6 separate regions of the Homo sapiens genome follow, and regions 2, 3, 4, 5 and 6 are each reported to be linked to region 1. Evidence: microRNA targets listed by miRTarBase, many of them from high-throughput screens and not tested one by one. Region 1 holds a microRNA gene; each other region holds the end of a gene's coding sequence. Distances are from middle to middle.

What was found. The annotated mature microRNA hsa-miR-6793-3p reads UCCCCAACCCCUGCCCGCAG and lies in region 1 at 2,748-2,767, shown strand. An mRNA with a match to its seed (bases 2 to 7 or 8) in the 3' UTR can be bound and repressed. Matches are read on the target gene's strand: a 7mer-m8 pairs with bases 2 to 8, a 7mer-A1 pairs with bases 2 to 7 and ends in A, and an 8mer does both.
Region 2: miRTarBase lists DKK3 as a target of hsa-miR-6793-3p. Seed matches in the 3' UTR shown: 7mer-A1 at 875-881.
Region 3: miRTarBase lists TRIM56 as a target of hsa-miR-6793-3p. The part of its 3' UTR that is shown has no 7-base or 8-base seed match.
Region 4: the mRNA of THBS2 is a reported target of hsa-miR-6793-3p. The part of its 3' UTR that is shown has no 7-base or 8-base seed match.
Region 5: miRTarBase lists ZNF793 as a target of hsa-miR-6793-3p. The part of its 3' UTR that is shown has no 7-base or 8-base seed match.
Region 6: the mRNA of KSR2 is a reported target of hsa-miR-6793-3p. Seed matches in the 3' UTR shown: 8mer at 3,259-3,266, 7mer-m8 at 2,380-2,386 and 8mer at 2,194-2,201.

Annotation. Positions count from the first base shown.
Region 1 is chr19:10,826,269-10,830,355 of GRCh38, forward strand. MIR6793 (microRNA 6793) reads left to right here and starts at 2,705; the gene lies at 2,705-2,767. DNM2 (dynamin 2) reads left to right here. Exons shown (of 21, transcript NM_001005361.3): 19 at 2,768-3,000; 20 at 3,859-4,087.
Region 2 is chr11:11,960,887-11,964,973 of GRCh38, reverse strand. DKK3 (dickkopf Wnt signaling pathway inhibitor 3) reads left to right here. Exons shown (of 7, transcript NM_001018057.2): 7 at 288-1,938. The coding sequence ends at 510. USP47 (ubiquitin specific peptidase 47) reads right to left here. Exons shown (of 28, transcript NM_001282659.2): 28 at 3,087-4,087. Among named protein-coding and RNA genes, the nearest start is that of DKK3, 46 kb to the left of the region's middle.
Region 3 is chr7:101,088,952-101,093,038 of GRCh38, forward strand. It overlaps TRIM56 (tripartite motif containing 56), which reads left to right. Exons shown (of 3, transcript NM_030961.3): 3 at 1-4,087. The coding sequence ends at 629. Among named protein-coding and RNA genes, the nearest start is that of TRIM56, 5.5 kb to the left of the region's middle.
Region 4 is chr6:169,214,523-169,218,609 of GRCh38, reverse strand. It overlaps THBS2 (thrombospondin 2), which reads left to right. Exons shown (of 22, transcript NM_003247.5): 22 at 781-2,825. The coding sequence ends at 788. The region is part of intron 2 of THBS2-AS1 (THBS2 antisense RNA 1); the gene reads right to left. Among named protein-coding and RNA genes, the nearest start is that of THBS2-AS1, 3.4 kb to the right of the region's middle.
Region 5 is chr19:37,537,636-37,541,722 of GRCh38, forward strand. ZNF793 (zinc finger protein 793) reads left to right here. Exons shown (of 8, transcript NM_001013659.3): 8 at 1-4,087. The coding sequence ends at 244. All of the region lies in intron 1 of LOC124904708, which reads right to left. Among named protein-coding and RNA genes, the nearest start is that of ZNF571-AS1, 9.3 kb to the right of the region's middle.
Region 6 is chr12:117,463,742-117,467,828 of GRCh38, forward strand. It overlaps KSR2 (kinase suppressor of ras 2), which reads right to left. Exons shown (of 20, transcript NM_173598.6): 20 at 1-3,464. The coding sequence ends at 3,458. Among named protein-coding and RNA genes, the nearest start is that of NOS1, 100 kb to the left of the region's middle.

The DNA.
Region 1 (4,087 bases):
AACAAGGCCAGAGAGATCAAGTAACCTGCCCCAAGTTCCTTAGGAAAGTGGGAAGTGGGATTCAAACCCACGTTTACCCTGGTTGCAACCATACCCTTGGGTTGTGTTGGGCAGCCGCTGTGTCCTAATGATCTGGGGCCCAGCCTCTTCCTCATGGGCGTCACCCGCCTGGCCCCGGGTTCCCTGGAGACTCTCAGGGCTCTGGGCTCCTCTTCAGTGAAATGCAGCTGTACTGATAGTATCTCCAGCTCAGGCTGCTAGAGGGCTCAGGGCACTTGTGTATCAGGCCTTTGGCATGGCACTAGCCACTCAGGAAGCTTTATAAACCAGCTTTGGGGCCGGAGCAGTGGCTCATGCCTGTAATCCCAGCACTTTGGGAGGCTGAGGAGGGAGGATCACTTGAGCCCAGGAGCTGAAGACCAGCCTGGGCAACATAGCCATACCCCAGTCTCTACAAAAAATTTAAAAATTAGCTGGGCGTGGTGGCAAATGCCTGTAGTCCCAGCTACTCAGAAGACCGAGGTAAGAGCATCACTTGAGCCCAGGAGGTTGAGGCTGCAGTGAGCCATGATTACGCCACTGCTCTCCAGCCTGGGTGATGGAGCAGGAACCTCTTTCAAAAAAAAAGTGTCTTGGGTTTTGTATATGAATGTCAACCACAGAAACCTGCGGATCTAAGTAAAACTCCCACACAGGGTGTGGCTGGGCATGGTGGCTCACATCTGTACTCCCAGCACTTTGGGAGGCTTGGCAGGAGGATCACTCGATCCCAGGAGTTCAAGACCAGCCTGGACAACATAGTGAGACCCCATCCCTATTTAAAACACACACACACCTCCCACGTGCCATGCCCTCCCACCCTGTTGCTCCCATTCTCAGTAGTGATCAGTGTTCACAGTTTCATGGTGTCCTGGTATGTTTCCTCATATACCGATAGGATCGGAGACATATACGGTTCTTCTGCTATGAAATTTAAAATGCATATATCCTTTGACCCTGCAAGTTTACTTTTAGGAACTTCTCTAAGAGAGACAATTGCCCACGTGCAAAGTGAGCTTATACATGCTTATTGTTTTCCATGATGTTTTATAGCAGCCAAAGATGGGACATAATTATCCATTTTTAATAGACTCTTATAAAATAAAAATATTTTATTATTTAAGAAAATAATAAATCTGTCGGCCCAGCTACTCGGGAAGCTGAGGCAGGAAGATCACTTGAGCCCAGGAGATCGAGGCTGCGGTGAGCAAAGATCGCTCCACTGCATTCCAGCCTGAGTGATAGGAGTGAGACCCTATCTAAAAAAAAAAAAAGTTGTGACGGCCAGGTGTGGTGGCTCATGCCTGTAATCCCAGCACTTTGGGAGGCTGAGGCGGGCACATCACGAGGTCAAGAGACTGAGACCATCCTGGCCAACATGCTGAAACCCCCCTCTACTAAAAATACAAAAATTAGCTGGGCGTGGTGGCACGCGTCTGTAGTCCCAGCTACTCTGGAGGCTGAGGCAGGAGAATCACTTGAACCTAGGAGGTGGAGTTTGCAATGAGCGGAGATCATGCCACTGTACTCCAGCCTGGTGACAGAGGGAGACTCTGTCTCAAAAAAAAAGAAAAAAAAAAGTAACTGAAAAACTTCTGTATCCAGTAGGAGGTTCCAGAAAGGACAATGTATAAAATTCATGAACAGAAACTAGTAGTGTTTGAACAGAAGCCAGGTGGAAGATGTAACAGGATTAGCCGGGCGCAGTGGCTCACTCACGCCTGTAATCCCAGCACTTTGGGAGGCCAAGGCGGGTGGATCACCTGAGGTCAGGAGTTAAAGACCAGCCTGGCCAATATGGTGAAACCCCATCTCTGCTAAAAATACAAAAATTAGCCGGGGGTTGGGGGGCACGCCTGTAGTCCCAGCTACTTGGGAGGTTGAGGCACAAGAATTGCTTGGACCCAGGAGACGCAGGTTGCAGTGAGCCAAGATTGCACTGCAGCCTGGGTGACAGAGTGAGACTCTGTCACAAAAAAATAAAGATATAACAGGATTGGCTGGGCGCGGTGGCTCACGCCTGTAATCCCAGCACTTTGGGAGGCTGAGGCAGGCGGATCATAAGGTCAGGAGATCGAGACCATCCTGGCTAACAGGGTGAAACCCTGTCTCTACTAAAAATACAAAAAATAAGCTGGGCGTGGTGGCAGGCGCCTGTAGTCCCAGCTACTTGGGAGACTGAGGCAGGAGAATGGCATAAACCCGGGAGGCGGAGGTTGCAGTGAGCTGAGATTGCACCACTGCACTCCAACCTGGGCGACAGTGAGACTGTCTCAAAAAAAAAAAAGCAAAAACAAAAAAGATATAACAGGATTATTCTGCCAAGGTTAAGGAAATAAATAAATAAGCTAAAACAGGAGAAAAGACATCAATGGAAGAGGCAAGATACTAGAAATAAGTTGAATAAGAATCTCATAACCAGCCTGGGCCACATGGTGGAACCCTATCTCTAAAAAAATTACAAAACTTAGCCAAGCATGGTGTCAACGTGCCTGTCGTCCTAGCTACTTGGGAGGCTGAGGCAGGATAATTACTTGAACCCGGGAGGCGGAGGTTGCAGTGAGCTGAAATTGAGCCACTGTACTCCAGCCTGGGTGACAGAGCAAGACTCTTTTTCAAAAAAGTCTGGGGGTGGCCCCGCCCTGTGAGAGATGTTTTTCCAGCAGTCACTGTGGGTTCTGGGTTGGGGTGATACACAAGCCTGACCCTCCCCAACCCCTGCCCGCAGACGAAGGCCTTCATCCACCACGAGCTGCTGGCCTACCTATACTCCTCGGCAGACCAGAGCAGCCTCATGGAGGAGTCGGCTGACCAGGCACAGCGGCGGGACGACATGCTGCGCATGTACCATGCCCTCAAGGAGGCGCTCAACATCATCGGTGACATCAGCACCAGCACTGTGTCCACGCCTGTACCCCCGCCTGTCGATGACACCTGGCTCCAGAGCGCCAGCAGCCACAGGTCCGGAAGCCTGGTTCCCCTACCCTCAAGCATTCGGCCTGCAGGTTCCTGCCCTCCCTGTGTGTCCTGCAGGGTCCTGGCAGGAAACAGGACACAGCCCAAGGGTGGCACCCAGGGCTGGGCACTGTGGGAGCTGCTGCCCTGCTGAGGCCGGAGGAGGGAGAGAAGGGGTATGGGGGCGAGCCAGCCCTACAGCTCTAGGGCAGGACCCTGTGAATAAATACCCCGCCTGCCCTCTGCTGGTGCCTTCCATTGGCACAGCCCAAATGGAAGCTGGGGTAAGAGGCTGGAGGGGCAGCAGCCACAGGAGAGAGATGAGCCTCCTGGAGCACAGAGAAGGGCAGATGGGAGGCTCTGGAGGGGCAAACGCAAGGCGTGGCCAGAGCTGCTGCCGCCCCTGAGTTGTCCATTGAGGCCGTCGGGCAGGGAACCTCAGAGGGGGCTGCCTTGCAGAGCCCTGGGGGAGCCATGGAGTTCCTTAAGGGGAGGATATCGCACCCAGGCCTGCAGGTGGCAGGGACTGAGGCCCAGGAGGGAATCTGGATGTCTGGACAGGGCTTGCAGGTTCCACGGCCCCTAGAGATATTAGGGCTTGATCTGGAGGACTCTGGAAGTGTCTTTGGCTGTGAGGGTGGATCCCAGGCCCAAGGCCTGAGGGGGCCCTGTGAGTGGGAAGTGCCTGAGGGGGCCGAGGGCAAGGGAAGGTGGGACTGGCGCTCAGGTTGGGGTGGGAGGATCCCACTGCGCCTGCGCTGTCCCCATAGCCAGCCCCCACCTCAGGTTCTGGCAGCCACAGTGGCATGGCGGGGGCTCCTACTCCATCTGTATCTGTAGCTCACACCCTCTCCTTCCTCACAGCCCCACTCCACAGCGCCGACCGGTGTCCAGCATACACCCCCCTGGCCGGCCCCCAGCAGTGAGGGGCCCCACTCCAGGGCCCCCCCTGATTCCTGTTCCCGTGGGGGCAGCAGCCTCCTTCTCGGCGCCCCCAATCCCATCCCGGCCTGGACCCCAGAGCGTGTTTGCCAACAGTGACCTCTTCCCAGCCCCGCCTCAGATCCCATCTCGGCCAGTTCGGATCCCCCCA
Region 2 (4,087 bases), not on the chromosome of region 1:
GCACTCAGGTCCTGCCCCTGGGCTGCGGGGCCTGAGAGTCACAGGAGGTCAGGCCTGCGCTGGAGGAGGGGAAGCTGCCCCCCACCAGCACATTCTCCCAAAGTGAGCCTCCCTCAGCCATCATTTTAAGATAGATGTTGACGGGAAGTGAAGTGTCTCTGTTGAAGAGACAGGAGAGGAGGGGGCATGAAGGTGAGGCTGGGAGCCCCACAGAGTCAGGGCGCCTTAGCTTTCGGCCTGGGCAGGCTCCCACGTTTAGAGCCTGGCTTTGTCCCATCTCTCCCCAGCCACAGCCTGGTGTATGTGTGCAAGCCGACCTTCGTGGGGAGCCGTGACCAAGATGGGGAGATCCTGCTGCCCAGAGAGGTCCCCGATGAGTATGAAGTTGGCAGCTTCATGGAGGAGGTGCGCCAGGAGCTGGAGGACCTGGAGAGGAGCCTGACTGAAGAGATGGCGCTGAGGGAGCCTGCGGCTGCCGCCGCTGCACTGCTGGGAGGGGAAGAGATTTAGATCTGGACCAGGCTGTGGGTAGATGTGCAATAGAAATAGCTAATTTATTTCCCCAGGTGTGTGCTTTAGGCGTGGGCTGACCAGGCTTCTTCCTACATCTTCTTCCCAGTAAGTTTCCCCTCTGGCTTGACAGCATGAGGTGTTGTGCATTTGTTCAGCTCCCCCAGGCTGTTCTCCAGGCTTCACAGTCTGGTGCTTGGGAGAGTCAGGCAGGGTTAAACTGCAGGAGCAGTTTGCCACCCCTGTCCAGATTATTGGCTGCTTTGCCTCTACCAGTTGGCAGACAGCCGTTTGTTCTACATGGCTTTGATAATTGTTTGAGGGGAGGAGATGGAAACAATGTGGAGTCTCCCTCTGATTGGTTTTGGGGAAATGTGGAGAAGAGTGCCCTGCTTTGCAAACATCAACCTGGCAAAAATGCAACAAATGAATTTTCCACGCAGTTCTTTCCATGGGCATAGGTAAGCTGTGCCTTCAGCTGTTGCAGATGAAATGTTCTGTTCACCCTGCATTACATGTGTTTATTCATCCAGCAGTGTTGCTCAGCTCCTACCTCTGTGCCAGGGCAGCATTTTCATATCCAAGATCAATTCCCTCTCTCAGCACAGCCTGGGGAGGGGGTCATTGTTCTCCTCGTCCATCAGGGATCTCAGAGGCTCAGAGACTGCAAGCTGCTTGCCCAAGTCACACAGCTAGTGAAGACCAGAGCAGTTTCATCTGGTTGTGACTCTAAGCTCAGTGCTCTCTCCACTACCCCACACCAGCCTTGGTGCCACCAAAAGTGCTCCCCAAAAGGAAGGAGAATGGGATTTTTCTTTTGAGGCATGCACATCTGGAATTAAGGTCAAACTAATTCTCACATCCCTCTAAAAGTAAACTACTGTTAGGAACAGCAGTGTTCTCACAGTGTGGGGCAGCCGTCCTTCTAATGAAGACAATGATATTGACACTGTCCCTCTTTGGCAGTTGCATTAGTAACTTTGAAAGGTATATGACTGAGCGTAGCATACAGGTTAACCTGCAGAAACAGTACTTAGGTAATTGTAGGGCGAGGATTATAAATGAAATTTGCAAAATCACTTAGCAGCAACTGAAGACAATTATCAACCACGTGGAGAAAATCAAACCGAGCAGGGCTGTGTGAAACATGGTTGTAATATGCGACTGCGAACACTGAACTCTACGCCACTCCACAAATGATGTTTTCAGGTGTCATGGACTGTTGCCACCATGTATTCATCCAGAGTTCTTAAAGTTTAAAGTTGCACATGATTGTATAAGCATGCTTTCTTTGAGTTTTAAATTATGTATAAACATAAGTTGCATTTAGAAATCAAGCATAAATCACTTCAACTGCTCTTCTGTAGTTCTTGGATTTCTTTTCCCTTTTGACTTTGAATAAATGTAAAATCCTTTCAGCCAGAAAAAGTAAAATAGAAACAACCTGTATTAAAAATCTTCCATAGAAGCAAATTTGCCACCCAACTGAAGCACACCTCTTTCAGCATCAAAATATTTTAGAAATCTTAACTATTTTTGGATGGGAATTTGTCTTAAAGAGTGTAAATGCTTCACGGCCTTCTGAAAGGACAAATGGAATATGTATGACTCTTTTTTTAGGGGAGCCTTCTTTAATCAAATGCAGTTCTGGGCCATAAGACAGTAAGATCCTCAAGGACCATAATATTAGAGCTACTATATTGAAGTCAGCTGCGTGGCAAGTGCCAGATTAGGCAGTCTACCTATATTCATTCATTTAATCTTCACTGAACTCCATGAGCATTTTCTTCATTTCACAGATGAACAAATGGAGGTGCAAAGAGATTGACAGAGTAGAAGTCAGACAAAAACAGCATCTAGTACAGTATGTCCAGGTTATAGTGATTATTTTAAGATCAAATAGGGAGCTGTTTTCTATTCAATGTCAGAAACCATCAGGACCACCCTACATTCTGGTTACTCAACAGATATCTACTGAGAGCCTCCTCAGAATCAGGTGCTGTGGTACGCTTTGGGGTGCCAAGCTGACCCAGATAGGGTCCCTACCTTGAAGGCATCCCAGTCTAATGAGGGAGACACAGCCAGAGCAAGCAATGACAAAACAAAGACAGTCAACCCGATGTGGGAACAGAGGTGTTACGGAAGCCTCAGTGGAGCACTTGGGGAGAGCTGGCATGGGAACTGGCTCTTGAAGATGATAGGAGTTTATCAGGAAGCCAGAGGGCACAGGAAAGGGCTTTCTGGGCCATGGGCAGAGGGAGGGAGGCACAAGGGTCAGGTGCCATGTAGGGGAAACTGCAAGTCATTTGCAGTGGCTGGAAGGCAAGGAAAGCTTGAGGAAGCATTTAGAGAAGAGGCTAAAAATTATGTCATCCAAAAAATGATTGAAAACATTGTGGTAAATGAGATAAAACTAGGTCCCCCATAGTTGTATATGTAGATATAGTAGGCTGCTCCATTTTGTCATGATAGCCACAAACTTGTAAGAACACGAGAGGCTTTGCAAAATACTTAGCTGAAGCCAGCATCTGAGTAGCATCTGAGTGTCTCCTTTACTCAGTCCTGAGTGAAATGTGGGAGGGGCTGGGTGGAGGTGGTGCTTGAATACCTTGCTGCTGCTCTCTCCCAAAGCCAGAGTTCCTGCCAAGCCATGGCAGATGCCGTCAGGTAAACTGCTCAACAGCTGTTCTCAGTCCCTCCAGCAGCTAGGGCTGGCCCCATGACCCAGGAAATGTAAGGGGAGGGCTCCCAGAGTTTCTGGAATTTTTTCCCAATTGACAAAAGGAGAGTGGCAAACAAGAATGGAGCTCCTGCCCTCCATCCACTTCCCCTGCCTTTGAGTATGGTGCTCAGGAAGCGACATTTGGCTCTGGGGCAGCCATCTGGTGATCATGTGATCAACAGGGCTGCATTCCTCTGGAGGCTCTGGGGAGAGTCCATTTCCTTGCTGTTTTTTAGCCTCTATAGGTCACTGGCATTCCTTGGCTCATGGGCCCCTTCATCTTCAAATCCTGCAATGACAGTTCTGTCCTTCTCAGGTGCCAGCTCTCTGGCTTTCTACAGGTGGGAAAGGTTCTCCACTTCTGGGGACCCATGTGATCAAATTGCGCCCACCTAGATAATCCAGAATAATCTTCCCACGTCAAGGTCCTTAACCTTAATTGCATCTGCAAAATCTCTTTTGCCCTGTCAGGTAAATAATCACAATCTTCCCACGTCAAGGTCCTTAACCTTAATTGCATCTGCAAAATCTCTTTTGCCCTGTCAGGTAAATAATCACAGGATACAGGGTTTAGGATGTGGCCCTACCACAGAAAGAGTCTTTGAGTCCTTGACATTGAGGAGGAAACCAATCCTGTTCTCCACCATCTCTGGACACCTTAAGTAAACCACCGATATTATTATTGATAAAGCTGGTGTTAGCTTTTCTGTTATTTGAAGCCAAAAAGCATTTCTGACACAGGAGCTATTTGCATGATGAACCATAGCCTGCAGGAGAACAAAGCCCAACTGGTTCTCTGGGCCTGTGGGGAGGGAGGATGAGGTTGAAGAGGGAAGGGAGGGGCCTGCTGTAGTG
Region 3 (4,087 bases), not on the chromosome of region 1:
CTGAGGGCTGCTCCCCTTGCAGCGTGGCCGCCCTGCAGAGCGCGGTGGCCTTCTCCGCTAGCGCACGGCTCTATCTCATCAACCCCAACGGCGAAGTGCAGTGGCGCAGGGCCCTGAGCCTCTCCCAGGCCAGCCACGCGGTGGCGGCACTGCCTAGCGGGGACCGCGTGGCTGTCAGCGTGGCGGGCCACGTGGAGGTGTACAATATGGAAGGCAGCCTGGCCACCCGGTTCATTCCTGGAGGCAAGGCCAGCCGGGGCCTGCGGGCGCTGGTGTTTCTGACCACCAGCCCCCAGGGGCATTTCGTGGGGTCGGACTGGCAGCAGAATAGTGTGGTAATCTGTGATGGGCTGGGCCAGGTGGTTGGGGAGTACAAGGGGCCAGGCCTGCATGGCTGCCAGCCGGGCTCCGTGTCTGTGGATAAGAAGGGCTACATCTTTCTGACCCTTCGAGAAGTCAACAAGGTGGTGATCCTGGACCCGAAGGGGTCCCTCCTTGGAGACTTCCTGACAGCCTACCACGGCCTGGAAAAGCCCCGGGTTACCACCATGGTGGATGGCAGGTACCTGGTCGTGTCCCTCAGTAACGGGACCATCCACATCTTTCGGGTCCGTTCTCCGGACAGTTAAAGGGGCTAGGACTAGGGTGAGAGGGAGTGGGGAGGGAGAGGGCAGGAAGGAGGCAGAGCTGTCCGTGGGAGGTGGAGGCCGAGGACATTTTCCTGAAGGGCAGGGGTTGGCAACTTTTCAACATGGAGTGCCAAACTGCTAACCCGTCTTCTAGTGTGTGAGAATAGGGACCAAGGTGGTGGCGTGACCTTAACTCTCAGAAGCAGAGGAGGCAGGTGGGTGGAGGGGGATGCTGGGAGTTCACCTGCCTCTTGCTTTTTGTGGGTGGCTGCTGCCACCACCGCCGCTGCTATATAGTTTAGGTTTCTGAGGTTTGTGAGCCTGTCCTGCTTTGCATTCTTCAAAACCATTCCTGATAGAGTAGCCGAGGGAGAGTCTTGGGGCCAAGAAGGGCCCAGGGTGGGTCAGGCGTGTGCACTGTGGAACAGAGCTGAGACCCCGGCCCCCCTTGGACTGGCACAGGGTCCTACAGAGTCAGAGGAGGCCTGAGATTTCGAATGGGCAGTGAATGGCCTCTTCTGCCAGCCACAGGCAGGATGCTCCTTGATCACGGCATCCCCCGGCGGTAGTACAGGGTGAGCTTGCAGGAGGGTCTGCAAGTGCAGACAGCAGCTGGGGCCAAAGAGGTGTTAGGTTCAAAGGCTGCGAAGAGAATAGGCTACTGGAAAACCAAACCCAACAGAATTCACGTCCAAAAATCCACATTCTCCATCGCTTCTCAGCCTTTTGGCTAAGATTAAGTATTAAAAAAAAACCAGGCTCTGCCAGGCGCAGTGGCTCATGCCTATAATCCCGGCACTTTGGGAGTCTGTGGCAGGAGGATTGCTTGAGGCCAGGAGTTTGAGACCAGCCTGGGCAACATAGCGAGACCCCATCTCTACAAAAGATTAAAAATTAGCTGCGTGTAGTAGCATATGCCTTTCAACGTAGCTACTCAGGAGGCTGAGGTGGGAGGATCCCTTGAGCCGAGGAGTTTGAGTCTGCAGTGAGCTATGATCGCACCACTGCATTCCAGACCCCATCTCGAAAAAAAAAAAAAAAAAAAAAAACAGAAACAACAGAAAAAGCAGGTTATCCATCACTTCTCAGCTAAGATCAAGTGTTAAAATAAATAAATAAATAAATAAATAAATAAATAAATAAATACCAAGTTATGAGTGTCAGAGCAGGGGAGCCCTCCACGCAGCCACGGAGCCAGTCTGAGGGAAGAGGTACATAGGATAGAAAAATCTCTAGGCTCCAACGCTTCTGCTTCGGTGTCTTTCCATTTCCCAGGGTCTATGTGTTGCCTTCTCTTCATTTTCCAGCAAAATTCCTTTTGAGATATGTTGGCCTTCACTCGGCTGAACTAGGGGGTGAAGGAAGGTTGTCCTCTGTGGGCCACTATTGCTGGGGAAACAGCTAAACCCTGCAGGCCAAGTGGAACTTGGAGGTGCCAAGAAAACCTAGAAGGTGCAATGGGGCTGCGACGGATAGAGGTGTCAAACCAGAAGGGAGGAACCCGTCGGAGGTGGGCTGTGACCACCGGACCTTTTCATAAGTGGTGGCAGTGGTAGAATTGAGGGGGCAAGTAGGCTTGGAGAATGTTTTTAGCCAGGGGCTGTTGAGAGATGGCAGAAGGGGGTCTTAATGTGGGGACTGTGGACAGTGGGGCATTCGTGGGAACCAGAGGGATTTTGGACAAGTCCAGATGGAATGTGCAGGGCATAGGTAGAGGGAAAAGAAAATCCCTTTCTGGGAAAACCATTTCTTGTTTATTGAAACAATGCAGGACATCATCAAAGTCCGGGTGGACACATTCCATTATCTACAAATTACAAAGGTAGGCACAGCAAAGAATAATGAAGATTATAAGAAAACCAAGCGCCAGGCACGGTGACTCAAGCCTGTAATCCCAGCACTCTGGGAGGCTGGGGTGGGTGGATCACTCAAGGTCAGGAGTTCGAGACCAGCCTGGCCAACATGGAGAAACCCCATCTCTACTAAAAATACAAAAATTAGCTAGGCGTGGGAGCGGGCGTCTGTAATCCCAGCTACTTGGGAGGCTGAGGCAGGAGAATCATTTGAACCCAGGAGGTGGAAGTTGCAGTGAGCTCAGATCGCACCATTGCACTCCAGCCTGGGTAACAAGAATGAAACTCCATCTCAAAAAAAAAGAAAAAGAAAAGAAAGAAAACCAAGGTCCCTCTCCCTCTCCCTCTCCCCACGGTCTCCCTCTGCCTCTCTTTCCATGGTCACGGTCTCCCTCTGATGCCGAGCCGAAGCTGGACTGTACTGCTGCCATCTCGGCTCACTGCAACCTCCCTGCCTGATTCTCCTGCCTCAGCCTGCCGAGTGCCTGCGATTGCAGGCGCGCGCCGCCACGCCTGACTGGTTTTCGTATTTTTTTGGTGGAGACGGGGTTTCACTGTGTTGGCCGGGCTGGTCTCCAGCTCCTAACCGCGAGTGATCCGCCAGCCTCGGCCTCCGGAGGTGCCGGGATTGCAGACGGAGTCTCGTTCACTCGGTGCTCAATGTTGCCCAGGCTGGAGTGCAGTGTCGTGATCTCGGCTAGCTACAACCTCCACCTCCCAGCCGCCCGCCTTGGCCTCCCAAAGTGCCGAGATTACAGCCTCTGCCCGGCCGCCACCCCCTCTGGGAAGTGCGGAGTGTCTCTGCCTGGCCGCCCATTGTCTGGGATGTGAGGAGCCCCTCTGCCCGGCTGCCCAGTCTGGGAAGTGAGGAGCGCCTCTTCCTGGCCGCCATCCCATCTAGGAAGTGAGGAGTGTCTCTGCCCGGCTGCCCATCATCTGAGATGTGGGGAGCACCTCAGCCCCGCCGCCCCGTCTGGGATGTGAGGAGCGCCTCTGCCCGGCCGCGACCCAGTCTGGGAGGTGAGGAGCGTCTCTGCCCAGCCGCCCCGTCTGAGAAGTGAGGAGCCCCTCCGCCTGGCAGCCGCCCCGTCTGAGAAGTGAGGAGCCCCTCCGCCCGGCAGCCGCCCCGTCCGGGAGGGAGGTGGGGGGTCAGCCCCCTCCCGGCCAGCCGCGCCGTCCGGGAGGGAGGTGGGGGGTCAGCCCCCGCCCGGCCAGCCGCGCCTTCCGGGAGGGAGGTGGGGGATCAGTCCCCGCCCGGCCAGCCGCCCCGCCCGGGAGCGAGGTGGGGGGCGCCTCCGCCCGGCCGCTGTCCCGTCCGGGAGGTGGGGGGTCGCCTCTGCCCGGCCGCCCCGTCTGGGAGGTGAGGAGCCCCTCTGCCCGGCCACCACCCCGTCTGGGAGGTGTACCCAACAGCTCATTGAGAACGGGCCATGATGACGATGGCGGTTTTGTGGAATAGAAAAGGGGGAAAGGTGGGGAAAAGATAGAGAAATCAGATTGTTGCCGTGTCTGTGTAGAAAGAAGTAGACATGGGAGACTTCATTTTGTTCTGTACTAAGAAAAATTCTTCTGCCTTGGGATGCTGTTAATCTAAGACCTTACCCC
Region 4 (4,087 bases), not on the chromosome of region 1:
CACCCACCCACACACCCACCCATCTCATCCATCCATCCACCCAGCCCCATCCACCTATCCATCTAGTCCATCCACCCACCCACCCATCCATCTCATCCATCCATCCATCCACCCATCCATTTCATCCACCCCCACTCATCTATCCCATCCATCCATCTCAGCCACCCACCCACCCACTCATCCATCTCATCCATCCACCCACCCATCCATCTCCACCAACCCACCTATCTCATTCATCCATCCATCCATCAATTCATCTCATCCACCCATTCATCTCATCTACCAACCCACTCATCCATCCATCCACCCACCCATTTCATCCATCCACCAATCCATTTCATCCATCCATCCACCCATCCATCCATCTCATCCAGCCACCCAACCATCTCATCATCCATCCACCCATTCATCTCATCCACCAACCCACTCATCCATCCATCCACCCACTCATTTCATCCATCCATCCATCCATCTCATCCACCCACCCACCCCATCCATCCACCCATCCATCCACCCACCCATTTCATCCACCCACCCATCCATTTCATCCATCCATCCATCCATCCATCTCATCCACCCACCCACCGACCCATCTCATCCATCCACCCACCCATCTCATCCATCCACCCATCCATTTCATCCATCCATCCATCCATCCATATGATAGATCTCATCTTTAATTAAAGTAATTATATTTCTGGTTCTAGGTAAAACAAAATAAATCACTACCCATGGCCCAGTTATGCTAATTGTTTATTGCTTTTTTTTTTCTTTTTGTAGATATTTAAACAAGATTTGCTGCATTTCCGGCAATGCCCTGTGCATGCCATGGTCCCTAGACACCTCAGTTCATTGTGGTCCTTGTGGCTTCTCTCTCTAGCAGCACCTCCTGTCCCTTGACCTTAACTCTGATGGTTCTTCACCTCCTGCCAGCAACCCCAAACCCAAGTGCCTTCAGAGGATAAATATCAATGGAACTCAGAGATGAACATCTAACCCACTAGAGGAAACCAGTTTGGTGATATATGAGACTTTATGTGGAGTGAAAATTGGGCATGCCATTACATTGCTTTTTCTTGTTTGTTTAAAAAGAATGACGTTTACATATAAAATGTAATTACTTATTGTATTTATGTGTATATGGAGTTGAAGGGAATACTGTGCATAAGCCATTATGATAAATTAAGCATGAAAAATATTGCTGAACTACTTTTGGTGCTTAAAGTTGTCACTATTCTTGAATTAGAGTTGCTCTACAATGACACACAAATCCCATTAAATAAATTATAAACAAGGGTCAATTCAAATTTGAAGTAATGTTTTAGTAAGGAGAGATTAGAAGACAACAGGCATAGCAAATGACATAAGCTACCGATTAACTAATCGGAACATGTAAAACAGTTACAAAAATAAACGAACTCTCCTCTTGTCCTACAATGAAAGCCCTCATGTGCAGTAGAGATGCAGTTTCATCAAAGAACAAACATCCTTGCAAATGGGTGTGACGCGGTTCCAGATGTGGATTTGGCAAAACCTCATTTAAGTAAAAGGTTAGCAGAGCAAAGTGCGGTGCTTTAGCTGCTGCTTGTGCCGCTGTGGCGTCGGGGAGGCTCCTGCCTGAGCTTCCTTCCCCAGCTTTGCTGCCTGAGAGGAACCAGAGCAGACGCACAGGCCGGAAAAGGCGCATCTAACGCGTATCTAGGCTTTGGTAACTGCGGACAAGTTGCTTTTACCTGATTTGATGATACATTTCATTAAGGTTCCAGTTATAAATATTTTGTTAATATTTATTAAGTGACTATAGAATGCAACTCCATTTACCAGTAACTTATTTTAAATATGCCTAGTAACACATATGTAGTATAATTTCTAGAAACAAACATCTAATAAGTATATAATCCTGTGAAAATATGAGGCTTGATAATATTAGGTTGTCACGATGAAGCATGCTAGAAGCTGTAACAGAATACATAGAGAATAATGAGGAGTTTATGATGGAACCTTAAATATATAATGTTGCCAGCGATTTTAGTTCAATATTTGTTACTGTTATCTATCTGCTGTATATGGAATTCTTTTAATTCAAACGCTGAAAAGAATCAGCATTTAGTCTTGCCAGGCACACCCAATAATCAGTCATGTGTAATATGCACAAGTTTGTTTTTGTTTTTGTTTTTTTTGTTGGTTGGTTTGTTTTTTTGCTTTAAGTTGCATGATCTTTCTGCAGGAAATAGTCACTCATCCCACTCCACATAAGGGGTTTAGTAAGAGAAGTCTGTCTGTCTGATGATGGATAGGGGGCAAATCTTTTTCCCCTTTCTGTTAATAGTCATCACATTTCTATGCCAAACAGGAACAATCCATAACTTTAGTCTTAATGTACACATTGCATTTTGATAAAATTAATTTTGTTGTTTCCTTTGAGGTTGATCGTTGTGTTGTTGTTTTGCTGCACTTTTTACTTTTTTGCGTGTGGAGCTGTATTCCCGAGACCAACGAAGCGTTGGGATACTTCATTAAATGTAGCGACTGTCAACAGCGTGCAGGTTTTCTGTTTCTGTGTTGTGGGGTCAACCGTACAATGGTGTGGGAGTGACGATGATGTGAGTATTTAGAATGTACCATATTTTTTGTAAATTATTTATGTTTTTCTAAACAAATTTATCGTATAGGTTGATGAAACGTCATGTGTTTTGCCAAAGACTGTAAATATTTATTTATGTGTTCACATGGTCAAAATTTCACCACTGAAACCCTGCACTTAGCTAGAACCTCATTTTTAAAGATTAACAACAGGAAATAAATTGTAAAAAAGGTTTTCTATACATGATCTCTCTCCCTTTTTTAAAAAGAACTAGCAGGGTTTCTACCGGGGTGGGGGAAAGGGGTAGAAGGAATTGGCATTTTGCTTCCTGTCATGTAAGTAGGCCTGTGGTGTGATCACGGGCTATCTCCTCGCAAGTCACAGGTTAAAATGCAGGCTGAAGGGCCTGGTGGAGAAGGAAGCCCTGCTTGACACAGGTCTCTGTTCTGCTGAGCCTCCCAGCACGGTGTGGGATACAACCATTTAGCAATTCATCTCTCCTGCCTCTGCTCATTGTCAAACGAGGGAACAGAACTTCGTAGGGAATTTGGCAAACATGATTGAAATGATTCCGAAAAAGGCAACAGCACACGGGACCCTCTCCCTAATACGAGCTGTTCTTCCCTCTTGACTCATTCTTCTGAGTCAGGTGGAGGGAAGTAGCGGACCCCAGAGGAAGGGCCCATTTCCAACCACAGCACTGCCTAAAAATGGGCCGATCGGGCTCACCAGTTGGAGGAGGCAATGGCAGCAGCACAGAACGCTGGGGTTTCTTTAGCAGCTCCAGCTGCTCTTGTTGGGATTTCTGAATATTATGCAGGCAGACACAGAGAAGAAAAACAGGGAGAGAGGGAGAGAGGGCATCCAGAGAGAAAGGGGAAGAGAGGGAGGGAGAGAGGGAGAGAGGGCATCCAGAGAGAAAGGGGAAGAGAGGGAGGGAGAGAGGGAGAGAGGGCATCCAGAGAGAAAGGGGAAGAGAGGGAGGGATGGGGGAGAGAGAAAGAGACAAAGAGACAGAGGGAAAGAGGGGGAGTTGGGGGAGGGAGGAAAAGAGAGCAAGATGAATAAAAACAAGTATACTTGGCTGAAACACGCTGGAGTGAGTCAGACAGTGAAGCAATAAGATATAGGAAAGGCCGTCTGAGGCAACGGGCTGTGAACTGAAGGCCCTGGCTTTGAGTTGTGAAATGAGTGAGTTTTAGTTCATCAATATGGAGGAAAAAGCTAGACCTACATGTGTAAAAAGAAAAGTTTAGAAACAAAATAATGATGGCAGTGATAGTGGCTGGTCTATGGACAGCTACTGGAGGAAGCTCAATGTACATTTTACTCATGAAACAAAAAATACATATAATATGTTGAATAAGGATGCTTAGAAGTCAGGCATTAAAATGAGATACATTTCTCCTGCATTCAGGTTTTGCTGTCATTTATCGAAAAGTTGAGGTTTCCTGACAATCATGTTCCCTGTCGATGGCCTTAGCCACATCAGAATGGTTGTCT
Region 5 (4,087 bases), 27 Mb from region 1:
CAATGTACATCGAAAAATGCACACAGGAGAAAGACCGTATCGTTGCAGAGAATGTGGAAAATCCTTCAGCCAGAAGTCATGCCTCAATAAACATTGGAGAACTCACACAGGAGAGAAGCCCTATGGGTGCAATGAATGTGGGAAAGCTTTCTACCAGAAGCCAAACCTCAGCAGACATCAGAAAATTCATGCTCGGAAGAATGCCTACAGGAATGAAAACTTAATAATTGTGGGAAATACTTGAGCAAAATATCTGGTTTCATGGTATGTAGGGAATTTTTTTTTTTTTTTTTTGAGTTGGAATCTCACTTTGTCACCCAGGCTGGAGTGCAGTGGCGCGATCTCGGCTTACTGCAAGCTCTGCCTCCCGGGTTCACGCCATTCTCCTGCCTCAGCCTCCCGAGTAGCTGGGACTACAGGTGCCCACCACCATGCCCGGCTAATTTTTTTTTTGTATTTTTAGTAGAGACGGGGTTTCACCGTGTTAGCCAGGATGGTCTCGATCTCCTGACCTTGTGATCTGCCCGCCTTGTCCTCCCAAAGTGCTGGGATTACAGGCGTGAGCCACCGCGCCTGGCCGGTATGTAGGGAATTTATCCTTAGGAGAAATCTTATCATTTTAATGAATTTGAACAGTGTGTTTTTATTTTATTTATTTATTTATTTTGAGTTGTATTCTCTGTTTCCCAGGCTGGAGTGCAATGGCACTATCTCGGCTCACTGTAACCTCAGCCTCCCAGGTTCAAGCAGTTCTCCTGCCTCAGCCTCCCAAGTAGCTGGGATTACAGGCACCTGCCACCACGCCTGGCTAATTTTTGTATTTTTAGTAGAGATGGGGTTTCACCATGTTGGTCAGGCTGGTCTCTTTGGCTAGGCTGGTCTCGAACTCCTGACCTCGTGATACCCCCCAACCCCCCGCCCTTGGCCTCCCAAAGTGTTGGGATTACAGGCATGAGCCAACGCGCCCAACCGACAGTGTTGTATCATAATGGAAATCATGATCTAATTGTGATACAAACTTTTCTAGAAAATACTTTCTCAAACATAAGCATGGACACCCTGGCATGTAAACGTTTAAAAATGTATTAAATGGAATAACAGCAGAATACAAAATATCTGTGAAGAGACTTAAAGGCATACTCTGGTATATTCCACAGTGAGCCATACAATCAGCATTATTTGTATTTTGGAGTTGTAAATGTGAAATTAACATAAAATGTGAATATCAGACACATGTCACACAACATATAGAATGCCATTCAGAAAACTTTTCCACTTTAAATATCATCATTGTCTTTTGATGTCTTAACAATACAAAAAAATAACAACAACATGGCCCACTATTGTTAAAAGAACTTTATTATACCAGCTACATTTTTCCACCTTTTTGTAATACATGTAAATGGCTATAGAGGTTGTTACTGTCCTCTGCAGAAATAATAAAGCAGTGTTTTTAAATGTATTTGGATAATTTGGCCAAAAATTTTACTAAAATGTAGTTATTTATATTAAAAATGCAAGCTAAGGAATAGTTTAAGAACCTGATACTGGGTAAATGAAACACTGTAAACTATTTGACAAAATGTAGTGTCACCCTGGTGTACAGTACACTGTTCATATTTTCTTAGTCTTGCTTAAAATATCTTGTAGCAAATTAGTAGCATTGCTACACTATTCTAGATACACTATTCTATATACAGGTTGTATAACTCAGAAATGTTTCATGCGTAGACCACTGAAGGAGAATTTCTTTTCTCTCTATCCCTCTGCAAATTAATTCAAGAATATTCATTTTTTTCATATAAATTTCCTTGCAAGTGTCCTAGACACTAAATCCCAAGGTTTTAATTATTTCAATGTTTGGAAAGAAGTCTGCTTCCCTGAGTTGCTATGTCATCCATATTAGAAAATAAATGGCCATGTGGAATCTACATTTTTCAAGATTTCCCTCCATGTAAGACTGCCTGATCCAGAATGAGAAAGGAGACATAACCACAGATATCAATATGATTTTTTAAGTGATAAAAAGATACCTCATACAACTCTAATCAACATATTTTTTAAAAAGAGGAGGTGGATGCTTTTCTAATAAACTTAAGTTATGAAAACTGCAATAAGAAGTAGAAAACTTGGTAGGATAGTTAACATTGAAAAACTCAAAAAAGCTATTAAAGATCTATAATGGGAAAATGCTCCAGGCTCAGAAGAGTTCATGCTTAGTTCTATCTTTTAAAGAAAGAGTAATACCAGTGTTATTTATTATATGGATGTAATACAATCCATGAACTGTACTCATTTATTTTATTAAGTCAGAATAAATTTTAACACCAAAATCAAATACAGATAGTTGAAAAAAGAAAACTTCTGCTGGGTGCGGTGGCTCACGCCTGTAATCCCAACACTTTGGGAGGCCGAGGCAGGTGGATCATGAGGTCAGAAGTTCGAGATGGTGAAACCCCATCTCTACTAAAAATACAAAAATTAGCCGGGTGTGGTGGCACACACCTGTAGTCCCAGCTACTTGGGAGGTTGAGGCATGAGGCAGGAGAATTGCTTGTACCCAGGAGGTAGAGGTTGCGGTGAGCCAAGATCGTGCCATCCAGCCTGGGTGACAAGAGCGAAACTCCGTCAAAAAAAAAAAAAAAAAAAGAAAACTTCAGACCAGTCTTACTCATGAATATAGAAACAAAAATTATAGTTAAAATACTAGCAAATAGAATTCAGCCATATACCCAAAGAGTGACATAGTAAGAGTCATCCCAAGAATGCCAAACCAGTTCAGTTAATAGGAAATGCATCAATCAAATTAACAGTTTAAAGGAGAAGAATCATATGAACTCTCAACAGATACTGAGAAGGCATTTCATAGAATGTGTTAATTTACATTGTAATAGATGGGAACCACTTAAAGCGGTTTTTCTTAAAAAAAATTTTTTTTAACCCAAACCCCAAAGCATATATTATGCCAAAGCCATTTTTTAAAATCAGGAATTCAATATTGGCTTAGAGATTCCAGTGAAGGCAATAAAAAGAAATGAATTGGTATAAACAGCAGAAAAGGTAAAACTATCCATTTTTACTGATGATATGGTTGTACACCAATAAATGAAAAGACTATTTTTTGAGTTAACTTTTCTAAGAAGACAGGGTACCAAAATCAAGAGCTGTTCTCCATACTGACAAGAAAACATAATTTATATGTACTTCTTTTGGAATTACACTAAATCTCAATGATTTTTTGACAATCATTGAAAAAAATATATGAAAAAAATCATACCATGTATAAAAACATCACATGTACCCAATAAATATATACAACAATTATATATCTATAATAATTAAAAATTTTTAAAATGCCATGCTAGATACCAGAAGATAACATGAAGCCATTCTAATGAAATTAATATTGTATTGGCAAAGGAACAGGTAAATACATCATTAGAACACAGTAGAAAATTCAGAAATAGACTTCGATATATATGAACTTTTTCATATGTGAAAAAGGTGAAATCTGAAACCACAGGGGAAAAGAGTAGTTTACTTAAAAAGAATTCTGGAACAGAACCTTTTAATCTTAAAGGAAGAAAATTTGGATTAACAGCACAAAAATAAATTCTGGGTGGCTTTAAGACGTAAAATTTTAAAGCAACAGAATTCTTAAAAGAAAATCAAAGGAGCCTATGTGTACAATCTAGGAGTTGGGAGATATTAACTTTACCAACACAGGACACTCAGAAGCTATTTAGAAATAAGCAGTTGAAGGCTGGGTGCAGTGGCTCATGCCTGTAATCCCAACACTTTGGGAGGCTGAGGCAGGAGGATCACCTGAGGTTAGGAGTTCAAGACTAGTCTGGTCAACATGGTGAAACCCCATCTCCACTAAAAATACAAAAATTAGCTGGGTGTGGTGGCACATGCCTGTAGTCCCAGCTACTTGGGAGGCTGAGGCAGGAGAATCACTTGAACCTGGAAGGCAGGGGTTGAAGTGAGCTGAGATTGCACCACTGCACTCCAGCCTGGGCAACAGAGCAAGACTCCATCTCAGAAAAAAAGAAAAAGAAAAAAAAAAGGAAACAAACATTTGACT
Region 6 (4,087 bases), not on the chromosome of region 1:
CTCCGTGTACCTTTGATGATCAGCTGTAGGTGGGGATGGGAATGGTGGAAGGTGAGATAAGGCTGGTTTCGTGTGTTTGTGGGGAGGGGCATGATGTGTGTATATGGCATGGGAGGTGAGAAAAAGGGAAGAACTAGGTTCCCTGGATACAAAAGTCTAGTGGTCAATATCAGTCAAGGGCTTCTATTGACTGACAATCCAAGGTAGCTGTGGAGACAAGTGGATGGGGTGAGGATGGGGGGGTCCATGGCAAGATGAAAATTTTCTCTTTGATCAGTAAAAGGAATACCAGGACAAAATGGATCTAAGCAATGACTTTGGGTTTCCAGCTTGGCTCTGGGGATGGGGACACAAGGGGCACGTCCTCCCACAGGGGGCCAAGAAGGAAGCTCCTTGGTTTTATGAATAATCTGTATCCTGGAAGAGTTGGGTGAAATTTATGTGCAAATCCACATGCCCTTTAAAGAAAGCTGAGATGTTTCTCTCTGCAAAGCCAAGGCTTCCTGGTGAATCTTCACCCTGTGGACTGGTCCCCTCGGGAAGCCCATGTATATGACGGTTTGCTAAAAGCAAGACTGACTGGAACAACTCGCTGCTGAGTCAGTGACTTATGTGTACAGGGCACCTGTGTGCAGCTGTGATGGGACAAGGGCAAACACACAAATCTTGGTCGTGTCATTGTATAGAATGAGTTGCAGGTGAGGCTGGTAATTATGATGTAAAAATATACAGCCTCTTTCCTCTTTTTTTTTCCTCCCTGCGTAAGATGAATATAACCTCCTCCCAAAACCTCATCAGCGAATAAAGATGGAAGCCAGCAGGGAAAGCAGCGGTTTGGTTCTTCCTGGATTTAAATGTGTGCAAATTAAAGCTGGTTTCTCAACAAGTCAGGGCGGTGTAGAGGGGACAGGGTAGGGGCGTCAGGAAGGCACTGAAGGCCAGGATCCTGGCCTGGCTGCAGCAGAGACCAATGCAGGTGGGGACAGAGTAGTGAAGTGGGGAAAGATCGAGAAGTCAAGAGCAAGTGACTCAGATTCAGGGATGGACCCAAGGCACCCTGTTCCACAAAGGGCTGGGTTTTCCCCTGGATCACTCAGGCCCTGTCCTTAATCCCAAACTGGTGCTCATGAATGAATGGAAAAATCAGCTGTTGGAGATCATGCTAGGCCTTGCCAAAGGCTGTGGTTGGACATTTTAGTTAATTCTGGAAACAAGAGAGGCAAGAGTGAGAAGGTGCCAGTTCTTGTGGACATTTCAGCTGCAGGGTAGTAGACCCTGGCTGCCTCTTCCCTTCCTCATATCCTGTCTCTTGGCACAAGGGAACATGACAAGGACTGGAGCCTGTGGACCCAAGAAGTCCTGGTGTGATGGAAGAGAAGTGAGTGGTTGGGTTTCAGGCACTCAGTAGGCTGCTGGGCAGAGCCAAGACAGGTGCAAGTCCAGGCCCAGGGCTGGGACACAGAGTGTTGTGTTGGGATGGGGAGGTGTCCATTGACAAGAGCCATCCCCAGCAACCCCAGAGTGGCTGGGGCTCAGGCAAACATATATAAAATGCCTCCAAGACACACACACGTCGTCAAGCCAAGAGCCATAGATGTCCCCAGAAGAGCAGTGTCTGCTTAGGAGCAGCCCAAGCCGGGGTCTTTAGTCCTCTAGTCCCAGTAAGCTGGGAGTGTTGGAAAGGCAATTCAGGAGGGCCCTTTGGGAAACACAGGGGTTTCCTGTAGCCAGGCTCCTGGGAAGCATGACTGATCTCACCATTCTTCCCGGTTTGGAAGCAGGTTTGGCCCCCAGAGCATGAACCAGTCTGGGAGTCACCCAAGGTGGGGAAGAGATCCTCATAGGTCTATTTGGATTTTGAAAGTAAGATCAGGTAGGGTTTTTGAAGTTCCAGTTCCTCTCTCTGGCCCTCTAGGAGGGAGATGCCTGGATAGATAGTAGCTACAAGAAAACTAAGGCCCAGGTAGTACCCAGGAAACACAGAGGGGCTGTGGCCGCCCTGGGCTTCCTGTTCACTGCCCAGATAATCCTGCTATTGCTCTGCTTGGGGACAGATTTCCCTTTTGTATCAGGTCACATGCAGGGGGTCAGGGCTTTGAAAACATGGGCAAATGACCCAGAGGTTCTCCTCTCCCATCTGCATGCCCAGCCTGCTCTCGGCATCCTTCCTACAGATACAGAACACCAGGGGCTTCCCCAACATGGTCAGGAAGAGTCGCCGGCCCAGGTTGGGATCAAGAGGAGGGAGGGAAGGTGGGGCACTGAGGGAACACACACAGGTGAGGGACACAGGCTTCCGATGGGGAAGCTACTTGAGGACCCCGCACCAGGCTAGAGCAAAGAACGCAGAAGTGTAACAAACATCCTCCCTTTGTGCTCCCCCAACAGGACTCCTCAAGGGTGACAGGCAGGGAAATCTTTTGCAAACGTGTTATCATAGGTACAGCCACATAACCCAACATGGACGTACCCCAAGAACCCGCATCCACCTTGGTGGGGGAATAAGCTTCACTGGTGTGAGTAGCAGAGAAGAGGGAAGAAAAGGAATGTCCTAGAACTCCCTGCCCAGAGCCCTGATTCTCAGGGACCAGACTTCAGGGGGTGCCCTGAATGACGGTGAGCTCTAAGGAGCCCCTCAGAAGTCATCTTGGCTTTCCAAATGGCAAGGAGGTGCGGGCAGTGAGGTGAAAAGGGATGCTACTCTCAGAGAACAGGAGAAAACAGCAGAAATGGGGGAATAGGTCCCCCAGAGAGACCCAGAACTCAAAAGACGTTCTAACTTTCCTACTGTACTTCAGAGCTCTATGCAAAGGTGCCACACGCCATGACAGGCTCGGGTTGGGGTGTCTGAAAACAGATATTTCCAAAGGAACGAGCTTAGCCACTCCCGACCTTCCCTGCTCGATCTTGGCTCAGTAGCCTTGACTAAGCTGCCACTCGGCTCTGTACCCTCCTCTTAGCTTCCCAGATGGTACAGCTGGAACCTACCACATACAGACAGAACTGAGGAGTGCCCCGTCATTGGGACAGTCTGGCTCTTGCTTGTCAAGGGGAAACAAGAGTGAACAACGTCAAACACACAGACACACACACACATAGCCCCGTCTGTGAGCCCCCCCACGTGGGGTCTCCTGTCCTAGTCCCATAGCCCAAAGGCACCACGTGCAGCCTGCAGTGCTCTCATTAGTGCTGTCCCCTGGGCCGCACTGATCAATAACGCATCACCCTGGCTGGTCCGGTTCAGTCCTAGCTCGGGGGTCCCCAACCCTGCCCGAGGAAAAGGGCTCAAGTCTGAGGTGCAGGGAGGCCGCCGAGCAGTTGTCCAGTGCTCCCAGGTCGGTCGGGGTTGGTACCCTCTGATGCTGAGTCTCTGGCCTCCTGAGCTGGCAGAGGACAGAGTAGGGAGGGAGAGGTGACGGGAGCCCAGGCAGCTGGGCGCCGTCCCGATGTCCAAAGGTCACAGCCTGGAGTGGGGAGAGAAGGGAGAGAGTGGTGAGAGGTCACAAGGACATGATGATGTCATCCGTTGTGAATGACACCCTCTCAGTGGGCCAGGTGGCTTGAGATGAACTGTTCCTGTCTTCTGCAAGAAGACATGGAAGAGATTTCTGTTAACTGAGTTCTTACTATATGCTGGGCTCTGCCACACACCTGATCCCATTTAAGCCTGAGATGAGCCTGCAATATAGGCTACTAATATTTTCAAAGATGAAAATAATCAGAGACGAACTTCTACGACAGAATCATACAATTTCACAGATGAAAACACTGAGGCTTCGGGAGGTTAAGTGTTTTGCCAAAGGGCACACTGCCAGGAAGCAGCAGGGTCAGGATTTGAACCCAGAACTTTTCCCACTTGGGCATGGACTAGGAATGGTCATCTAGTGTATGGGGCTGGGATAAAGCTCTGTAACAGCTAGAGAGGCAGGAAGAGGGGGTGGGACTGGGATCCACACTGCAGCCTCCTGCTATGAGCAGACTTTGATGTCCACTGCAGCAAAAGGAACTCATTTATTTTGTTGACTGCTGTATTCTCACTCTTAGAACAGTGTCTAGCACATAAAAGATGTTCAGTACACATAGGCTG